Linked DNA regions of Homo sapiens: region 1 is linked to region 2. Evidence: fine-mapped expression QTL. Tissue or cell type: Th1 cells. Region 2 holds a variant in brackets; the other region holds the start of a gene. All regions are shown on one strand. Distances are from middle to middle.

Region 1 (5,151 bases), 49 kb before region 2:
CCCCTCACCCCAAGGTCAATTGCACGAATTCTTTTGGAAAACAGGACCTATGGCATTTCCCAGACAAATCACCGTGAACCCTGTACTGTGCATTGCTGTCCTAAAATTAACACATAAATCTATTGCCGCCAAAGATTCTGTCATTTGTGTTACATAATTGCCTTTCATTTGAACTCATTAATCAAATTGGGGTTTTTAAGCAACACCTAATTAATTCTTTAACTGGCTCATATTATACCTTTAATGACTTCCACCAGGGTAAAAACCACTGATCACTGAGTTCTATTTTGAAACTACGGACGTCGAGTTTCCTCTTTCACCCAGAATTTTCAGATCTTGTTTAAAAAGTTGGGTGTGGTTTCATGGGGGGAGGGGGAAGAGCGAGAGGAGACCAGAGGGACGGGGGCGGGGACTCTGCAAGAAAAACCTTCCCGGTGCAATCGTGATCTGGGAGGCCCACGTATGGCGCCTCTCCAAAGGCTGCAGAAGTTTCTTGCTAACAAAAAGTCCGCACATTCGAGCAAAGACAGGCTTTAGCGAGTTATTAAAAACTTAGGGGCGCTCTTGTCCCCCACAGGGCCCGACCGCACACAGCAAGGCGATGGCCCAGCTGTAAGTTGGTAGCACTGAGAACTAGCAGCGCGCGCGGAGCCCGCTGAGACTTGAATCAATCTGGTCTAACGGTTTCCCCTAAACCGCTAGGAGCCCTCAATCGGCGGGACAGCAGGGCGCGGTGAGTCACCGCCGGTGACTAAGCGACCCCACCCCTCTCCCTCGGGCTTTCCTCTGCCACCGCCGTCTCGCAACTCCCGCCGTCCGAAGCTGGACTGAGCCCGTTAGGTCCCTCGACAGAACCTCCCCTCCCCCCAACATCTCTCCGCCAAGGCAAGTCGATGGACAGAGGCGCGGGCCGGAGCAGCCCCCCTTTCCAAGCGGGCGGCGCGCGAGGCTGCGGCGAGGCCTGAGCCCTGCGTTCCTGCGCTGTGCGCGCCCCCACCCCGCGTTCCAATCTCAGGCGCTCTTTGTTTCTTTCTCCGCGACTTCAGATCTGAGGGATTCCTTACTCTTTCCTCTTCCCGCTCCTTTGCCCGCGGGTCTCCCCGCCTGACCGCAGCCCCGAGACCGCCGCGCACCTCCTCCCACGCCCCTTTGGCGTGGTGCCACCGGACCCCTCTGGTTCAGTCCCAGGCGGACCCCCCCCTCACCGCGCGACCCCGCCTTTTTCAGCACCCCAGGGTGAGCCCAGCTCAGACTATCATCCGGAAAGCCCCCAAAAGTCCCAGCCCAGCGCTGAAGTAACGGGACCATGCCCAGTCCCAGGCCCCGGAGCAGGAAGGCTCGAGGGCGCCCCCACCCCACCCGCCCACCCTCCCCGCTTCTCGCTAGGTCCCTATTGGCTGGCGCGCTCCGCGGCTGGGATGGCAGTGGGAGGGGACCCTCTTTCCTAACGGGGTTATAAAAACAGCGCCCTCGGCGGGGTCCAGTCCTCTGCCACTCTCGCTCCGAGGTCCCCGCGCCAGAGACGCAGCCGCGCTCCCACCACCCACACCCACCGCGCCCTCGTTCGCCTCTTCTCCGGGAGCCAGTCCGCGCCACCGCCGCCGCCCAGGCCATCGCCACCCTCCGCAGCCATGTCCACCAGGTCCGTGTCCTCGTCCTCCTACCGCAGGATGTTCGGCGGCCCGGGCACCGCGAGCCGGCCGAGCTCCAGCCGGAGCTACGTGACTACGTCCACCCGCACCTACAGCCTGGGCAGCGCGCTGCGCCCCAGCACCAGCCGCAGCCTCTACGCCTCGTCCCCGGGCGGCGTGTATGCCACGCGCTCCTCTGCCGTGCGCCTGCGGAGCAGCGTGCCCGGGGTGCGGCTCCTGCAGGACTCGGTGGACTTCTCGCTGGCCGACGCCATCAACACCGAGTTCAAGAACACCCGCACCAACGAGAAGGTGGAGCTGCAGGAGCTGAATGACCGCTTCGCCAACTACATCGACAAGGTGCGCTTCCTGGAGCAGCAGAATAAGATCCTGCTGGCCGAGCTCGAGCAGCTCAAGGGCCAAGGCAAGTCGCGCCTGGGGGACCTCTACGAGGAGGAGATGCGGGAGCTGCGCCGGCAGGTGGACCAGCTAACCAACGACAAAGCCCGCGTCGAGGTGGAGCGCGACAACCTGGCCGAGGACATCATGCGCCTCCGGGAGAAGTAAGGCTGCGCCCATGCAAGTAGCTGGGCCTCGGGAGGGGGCTGGAGGGAGAGGGGAACGCCCCCCCGGCCCCCGCGAGAGCTGCCACGCCCTTGGGGATGTGGCCGGGGGGAGGCCTGCCAGGGAGACAGCGGAGAGCGGGGCTGTGGCTGTGGTGGCGCAGCCCCGCCCAGAACCCAGACCTTGCAGTTCGCATTTCCTCCTCTGTCCCCACACATTGCCCAAGGACGCTCCGTTTCAAGTTACAGATTTCTTAAAACTACCACTTTGTGTGCAGTTGAAGGCCCTTGGGCACAATGAGAGCCAGTCCTCCAAACTTTCAGAAAGTTTCCTGCCCCTTCTGGCAGGCTGCCAATCACCGGGCGGGAGAAGGAAGGAGGGGAAGGCGGTGGAGGGAGCGAGACAAAGGGATGGTCCCTCGGGGGCGGGGATGGCGGGGCTGTCCTGTAGGTCTGTGCGGCCACCGTGATTGCCCCTCTGCGCGGTGCCCGAAGTCCCGCTGAAACCTGCCGAGGGCAGCAGGTCTGAAAGCTGCAGGCGCTAGTTGCGCGGAGGTGGCGCAGCTGCTCTGGAGGCGCAGAGCGAATACGTGGTGTTTGGGTGTGGCCGCCCCGCCCCTGGCGGTTTCCTCGTTCCCCTTTGGTTAATGCGCAACTGTTTCAGATTGCAGGAGGAGATGCTTCAGAGAGAGGAAGCCGAAAACACCCTGCAATCTTTCAGACAGGTTTGTAGACTCTCTTCCCACTCGCAGCCGCCTGACCCCACCCAACACAACCCACGAGCAATTCTAAAAGTTGCTTAACTCACGTCTAAAAAGTGCAAAACTTCAGGGCTGCGCGTAAAGCCCTCTAGTGGCGGGAAGACCACAGGTTGGAGCTTCTCATGATTAGAAAAATATTAATAAAACCCCTTGAGCGATTTTTTTTTTTTTTTTGAGACGGAGTCTTACTCTGTCGCCCAGGCTGGAGTGCAGTGGCGAGATCTTGGCTCACTGCATCCTCCGCCTCCCGGGTTCAAGCGATCCTTGAATGATTTCTAAGCAGTTCCTTGGGACATAAAGAAAAATCTTTTAACTTTTTACTTTGTTTCCCAAATGTTGCACAGTTTTGCAACACATTGACCTTCTGGTTTCGAACGGTTACAATTTTAGATTGTGGTTTGCCAAAGTCAAGTTGCTTAATTTTTACAAGGCCACAAAAAGCGCAATTATGCCCTGCAGTTTAAAATGGAAAACGTGTTGGAAGATAAGAAAACTTAGTTTCCAACTGGAATGGAGCCAGCAAGTTTCTTTTCTTCTTTGCAAATTCTATTGTGTCATTAAAGTTCGATGGAAGTATCACTATGCACAACTATTTTGTGATCTAATAAGGGTGAAAAGGAGCCATCTGTCCCCTTGGCTAAGGGGTATTAATGGTTTCTATGGGCTTCACTATGGAATGTAGATACAGACATTCTGGCAAATGTGGTGGCTCTGGACAGAAATAATAGGAGTCTTTGTATTCCCAGGGAAGCTTTGCAACAGGCTACATTCTTACTGAATATGTAATGATGTAAGCACGGTTCTAATTGGACACAAGTATTTGCTAACATCCGTTATCTAATATCTGGCCCAGACTTGAGAAGTAGGTAATGTAAAAAGTTTTTAAAGCTACAAGCATACCTCACATTTTAAAAGTCCTTTCTTGATTGGGTTCTTGTGTTCTTTAGCACTCTTGCCATAAAAAATAATAACAGTAATAAACCCAAGGCTGAAAAACTGAATTTTAACTAAAGGGTTTTTGTGCGTGTTTTTTTTTTTTTTCACCAAAATTAGATGGACTTACAGAATTTTTAACTTAAAATTGGAATCCAAAAGCCAGAAGATCCCCATTATAGTTTATAGTTGTATTCCCTGGAATATTTACTGGGATTAACTGCAAAGCACTCTCAGATGAATAGTGTAGTATAACATTTTGAAACTGAAATACATTTACCAAATTAATTTAACCACAGCAATGTGTGTGGTTCATTTTAGTCCTTGAGCATTTTTGATTATCATACCTGTCATGTTTTCTGCAGTGTAGTGAGTTAACATAAAACAACATCAATACAAAAGATCCTCTGTTTCGAGATTAAGCAAAATTCCTCATTCTCTTCAATGTGATAGAATACCACATTGATCTTTCTTTGGAGGTTAGTAAAATATCTTTTATGTATTTTTCAGGGCTTAACAAGTAAAAATCAATGTTTTCATCAAGTCTGATCTTTTTGTCACCCACTCTTCATTCATTTTTCCACTAAGGTGATAGAAAAGTCTCAACAGTTTAAGACCGTAAGGCTATGAACTCCAAATATAATTGCTGACAAGATAAGCAATCCTCACGCATCCTTTTGAGAGGAAATAAAATCTTAGTTGCAAGATTACATATTCTGATTTGGAATGCTGAGCTTTTTAAATGGAAATATAGAAGGACGGCTGAATCAGCAAAAATCCTTTATGTAGTTTCATTCTTTGCAAGCTTGACCAGTCATTCTGAAACAGGCTAACTGAACTGATACAGTGGCAAGTGAAAAAGACATGCCTTTACAGGATGAGTCAAAGGAGTTTTAGAAGAAAAATCCACCAGAGAAAGCCAAGCAAATACAGTTCAGAGTTACATTTCTTTTCCATTTTTTCCTGAACTGAATCTTTGGCATGCATATCCTGAATTGGGTTATTGAATATAAATCTAGCCTTGTACAATGGATGCCAGATGACTACATATTTGCTTTGGAGCCTAAGGATAAGTTTCAAAAGATTTGAGTGGAGAAGAAAAGCTAAAACTCTTGAAGCACAAGTTTCTGTTCTCCATGTACTCAAGTGTACATGAAGTTGTGAAAATTTGTCCACCTCTATCATCATGTTATTCCATGAAATTACAAAACAAATCTTAAAAATGTTGTGGCATAGATTTTCTAGATTTAAAAAGTAATTAAA
Region 2 (5,151 bases):
GGAAAGACACAGAGGCAGAATCTGCATTAGGAAGAAAACCCCCACTCTTCTTTGCTCCGCATGCTCTCGTGACAGCCAGGTTTATGAGCAGCACCCTTCTGCGGAAGTAAATTTACCTTGCTGAGAAATTCTTTGTTTTACTGCTCATTTTCTTTGTGACCCTGAGCTCTTACTTCTGACATTAGCAAGATAACAAAAAAAAGATAAAGAATATTTATTTCCTGGTGGCCACGAGAGCACTCTAAACAAACAAACAGTGCTAGAAACTAAAAGCATTCATGGTCTGGGAGAACAAACCGTGTGCTAGCTCAGTTAGAGGTACTGTCCCTAAATTTACTGATAGTTATAAGAAAAAAACAACAACAGGAATTCCTGAGGAATGTAAGTGTTTGACAACAAGGCCTGTAAATATAATGGTTTAACCACAAAGCTTGAAAACGTTTGTTATGGGAAATTGATTTTCTTCACTTCAGCTGTAAATTAACTCATCAGTTTTGTGATAAGTAACCTACCACTCAGGATGTGAACTTTCTGGCCTTGTGATAATGAATCCACCACACTGTGCCTGTTCTCCTATTTTTTAGAGAGCTTTTTCTTCCCTTACCAGTTCTATTCCCAACAGTATAGAAGTGATTTAAGCTGCCTCTGACAGATCTGATCCATATAGAGTACAAAGCCTCTTTCTTCCATGCACTGTGAGTGAAATACTAACAACAGCCTTGTACTAAAAGTTATAAATTTAGGAAAAGCTAGGCCTTGAGGGGATGGGAGTGAGTTAAGTAAAATTAAAAGTAGTCTAAATTTATCTTCTTTCTGGTGTATGAATAAAAGCAATAGGGAAATAGAGTATCTGAAGTATATAGGAATTCTATCTTGCTTTCATGTAATAGTCAAGAAACAGTATTTAATTATGAAGCTAATTGTTCAAACAAAGAAAAAAACTAACACATTTTCAAAAGAAGAAATTTTAAGAGACCACATTCCTTGATCATAATCTGATACAGTTAAGCAAAAAATAAAACTATGCCTCTATTACTCAGAAAATAATAAATCCACTTCTACTTAAATCTTTGATAGAAGAGAAAAGTCAAAATAAAATCATCAACTATAGGTAGACCAGTGAAAGGAAGGCCACTACATTCTAAAACCTCTGGCACACAGGCCGGGCATGGTGGCTCCTGCCTGTAATCCCAGCACTTTGGGAGGTCGAGGCAGGCAGATCACTTGAGGTCAGGAGTTTGAGACCAGCCTGGCCAACATGGTGAAAACCCATCTCCACTAAAAATACAAAAATTAGCTGGGTGTGATGGTGCGCACCTGTAATCTCAGCTACTTGGGAGGCTGAGGTAGGAGAATCGCTTGAACCCAGGAGGTGGAGGCTGCAGTGAGCCAAGACCACGCCACTGTACTCTAGCCTGGGCAACAGAGGAAGGAATTTATCTCAAATAATAATAATAATAAAAGCATCTGGTACACAATGACAACTATACTCATTGGGAGATTACAACCTTGAAAGCTGTGTTGGGGGTCCCCAAGACCACCCTCAGGCTTGTCAATATACTAGTAGGACTCAGAGGAGTCATAAAAGCCGTTGTGCTCACAATTACACTTTATTGCAGGGAAAGATGCAGATTAAAATCAGCAAAATGCCAAGGGTCATGGAGCAAAGTCCAGGAGAAACCAAGTGCCAACTTCCAGATGTCCTCTCCCAGTAGAGAAACACAGGTGCATTTAATTCTCCCAGCAAGAATGTGTGACTATACATGCAAAATATTGCCAGCCAGGGAAACTCACCTGAGGCTTGGTGTCCACGGTTTTTATTGGCAGAGTCAGTAACATAGACGTAGTACATGCATGATTGCCCTCAGCCTCTCAGAGCAAAAATAGCAAAAATAAGCATCACCATAAATCACATTGTTAGCATAAACAATCTGACTAAACTAGTACCAGGTAGCCCCAGGCCTCAGTCATGCAAAACTCTCTGATCCTGCAGAATATTTCAACATCTCAGAGCTCAGCTCCCAGGAGCCAGCTAGGGCTGATCGTAAAGGCAGGCCTTTTTTGGGAACATGTGGAGTTTAGCAGCCAGACCTGCAGTTAGCACCTTCTGCACAAATGTCTCCACGATTATAGAAGAAACAATAAATTTTTTTAAAAATTCAATGCTTGGTTTAAGAAATTAGAAATAAAAAAACAAAAAGTAGCACAAGAAGGAATTAAGATAACAAAAAAATAAAATGTAATAATAGGTTAAATATATCCCAAAGCCAGTTCTTCCAAAGGACCAATAAAATAGACAAACTTTCATGAGTTTAATCAAGAATTAAAGAGGACAGAAATATACAAGCTTAGGAATGAGAAAGAAAACATGACC[G/A]TAGATAAGGAAGGCATTAAAATAGTTTTAAGAATATCCTAGGACAATGCGTAGAAATAAAGGTCAAAACCTGGAGGAAATGTGTATTTTTTTAGCAAAATATAAGCTGCCACTATTGATCCCAGAGGAAGGAACAACCATGAATAAACAAATTACCATAGAAGGGATGGACAAGATAATGGAAGATCTACAATTAAGAAAGACAGCAGTATAAGATATTGTCACAGCTGAGGAAAGCCCTCTAGCAAGGAGATGCAGGTGTTGGCAGCTGGAAGTCCAGCAGGCATTCACAGAAAAGGTAAGAGTGAGAGGACCTGACAGAACGCTGATAGTATCTGCAACAACTACTAGGGCAAAAATATGTTAATTGCCCTGGTAGGCAAGGAAATGCACATTAAAACAATAGACATCATTGTGCCCCATAATATTGGCAATTACAAGGGGGAATTACAGATGCTTATGGCTGGAGGCCCACAGGAAAAAAAGATTCTCTTATATTTGGTGGTGGAAGTATGAATTGTCACAACCTATTGAGAAACAATCCAATAATATCCATTAAAATTCAAGTTGTGTGTGTGTGTGTGTGTATGTAATTTGTTTTAGCAAGTTCTAGGGATCCATCCCATGGAAATAAAATAAACACAACAATCTATAGGAATATATGATCAGGGAGATTTTACAGCAATATTGTAGAGATTTTTAGAAAAGAAAATGCCAATCAATAGGAAAATGGCTGAAAACATATTAATACCTCCATACCATGTACAATTGTTCAGCTATTAAAAATGAGTTATGGCCAGGCATGGTGGCTCATGCCTGTAATCCCAGCACTTTGGGAGGTTGAGGCAGGAAGATAATTAAGGCCAGGAGTTCAAGAGCAGCCCAGGCAACATAGTGAGATCCCACCCCTACTAAGAATTTAAAAAACTTTAAATAAATTTATAAAATAAAATTTTAAAATGAGTTAGATCTAAATAGATCAAATCAGAAGAATTTTTCAATGTATTATTAAGTGAGAAAGCTAAGATATGGAGGAATTTCCATAATATGATTTCATTTTAGTAAAAAAAAAAGTTAAATCACATTGTGTCTGTGTTTATGCTTGTACAAAAGCATGAAGGAAGGTCCAGAAGGATGCTCAGTAGCTTGGTACACAAGGTACCCTGCTTCTTCTGGTGGTGGAGAGAGATGGTAGTAATGCCAATGTTTGGGAAGGAAAGAGAGAGAGAGAGAGACCCAAGATTAAAAAATATGTATGGTATCTCTGTTAGCCCATTTTCACATTGCTGTAAAAAAAACTCTCTGAGACTGGGTAATTTATAAAAAAAGAGGTTTAGCTGACTCACAGTTCCATATTGCTGGGGAGGCCTCAGGAAACACAATCATGGTGGAAGGTGAAGGGGAAGAAAGGCACTTCTTACATGGTAGGAAGAGAGAGAGACTGAGGGGGGAAGTGCCACACTTTTAAACCATCAGATCTCGTGAGAACACCTCACTATCACAAGAACAGCACGGGAGAAATCTGCCACCATGATTCAATCACCTCCACCAGGCCCCTCCCCTGACATGTGGGGATTACAATTCAACATGAGATTTGGGTGGGGATGAAGAGCCAAACAATATCAATATCTATGCATCATTCTATATGTGTATGGATATAAAGAAATATATGAAAAGCAGGTCTCCAAAATTAAATAGTGTCATGTGACAAGATATCAGAGATGGTTTTGCCTCTCTGTTTCACATATTTTTGAGTCTTAATTTTAATTAATGTGTGTTTGTATTAGTCAGGGTTCTCCAAGGAACAGAACCAATGGCAGAGAGAGAGAGAGAATAGATGATTTGATAAACAGAGAGATAAATAGATGATTTAATAGATAGTTAGAGAGATAGGAAGATAGAGGATAGACATAGATATAGATAGATGTTTAGATAGATAAATACATAGGAAGATAAATAGATGATAGATAGGGAGATAGAGAGGAAGACTGATAAATCATAGATGATTTGATGGATGATAGATATATGGATAGGAAGACAGATAGTCATATGGTTAGGCTGTATCCCCACTCAAAATCTCATCTTGAATTGTAATCCCCATGTGTCAAGGATGGACCAAGTGGACGTAATTGGATCATAGAGGTGGTTTCCCCCATGCTGTTCTTGTGATAATGAGTGAGTCTCATATGATCTGATGGTTTTATCAGCATCTGGCATTTCCCCTGCTTGTTCTCATTCCGTCCTGCTGCCCTGTGAAGGTGTCTGCTTCTCCTTTGCCTTCTGCCATGATTGTAAGTCTCCGGAGACCTCCCCAGCCATAATAAACTGTGAATCGATTAAACCTCTTTCCTTTATAAATTACCCATTTCTTCATAGCAGTGTAAATTGGTACCGGAAGTGGAGTGCTGCTAGAAAGCTACCTGAAAATGTGGAATAACTTTGGAAATGGGGTAACAGGCAGAGATTGGAACAATTTGGAGGGCTCAGAAGAAGAAAGGAAGATGTGGGAAAGTTTGGAACTTCCTAAAGACTTGTTAAATGGTTTTGACCAAAATGCTGATAGTGATGTGAACAATGAAGTCCAGGCTGAGGTGGTCTCAGATGAAGATGAGGAACTTGTTGGGAACTGGAATAAAGGTGACCCTCGCTATGCTTTAGCAAAGAGACTGGCAGCATTTTGCCCCTGCACTAGAGATCTGTGGAACTTTGAACTTGACAGAGATGACTTAGGGTATCTGACAGAAGAAATTCTTAAACAGCAAAGCATTCAAGAGGTG

Direction of the effects. Alleles are on the strand shown, and positions count from the first base shown. SD is a standard deviation of normalised expression in the study named.
In carriers of allele A in region 2, the expression in Th1 cells of the gene that starts at base 2,194 in region 1 tends to be higher than with G alone (large effect, 0.77 SD a copy in Schmiedel 2018).

What was found. PIP is the estimated chance that this variant, and not a neighbour inherited with it, causes the effect.
Region 1: VIM-AS1 starts here. The variant in region 2 is fine-mapped to the expression of VIM-AS1 in Th1 cells (Schmiedel 2018, PIP 0.95).

The regions. Positions count from the first base shown.
Region 1 is chr10:17,227,792-17,232,942 of GRCh38, forward strand. It overlaps VIM-AS1 (VIM antisense RNA 1), which reads right to left and starts at 2,194. Exons shown (of 3, transcript NR_108061.1): 1 at 1,554-2,194. VIM (vimentin) reads left to right here and starts at 450. Exons shown (of 10, transcript NM_003380.5): 1 at 450-733; 2 at 1,485-2,194; 3 at 2,859-2,919. The coding sequence starts at 1,632. RefSeq lists an enhancer at 1,779-1,868 and a silencer at 2,179-2,358.
Region 2 is chr10:17,277,138-17,282,288 of GRCh38, forward strand. No RefSeq gene overlaps it. Among named protein-coding and RNA genes, the nearest start is that of VIM-AS1, 50 kb to the left of the region's middle. The variant G/A (reference allele first, on the strand shown) is at 2,375.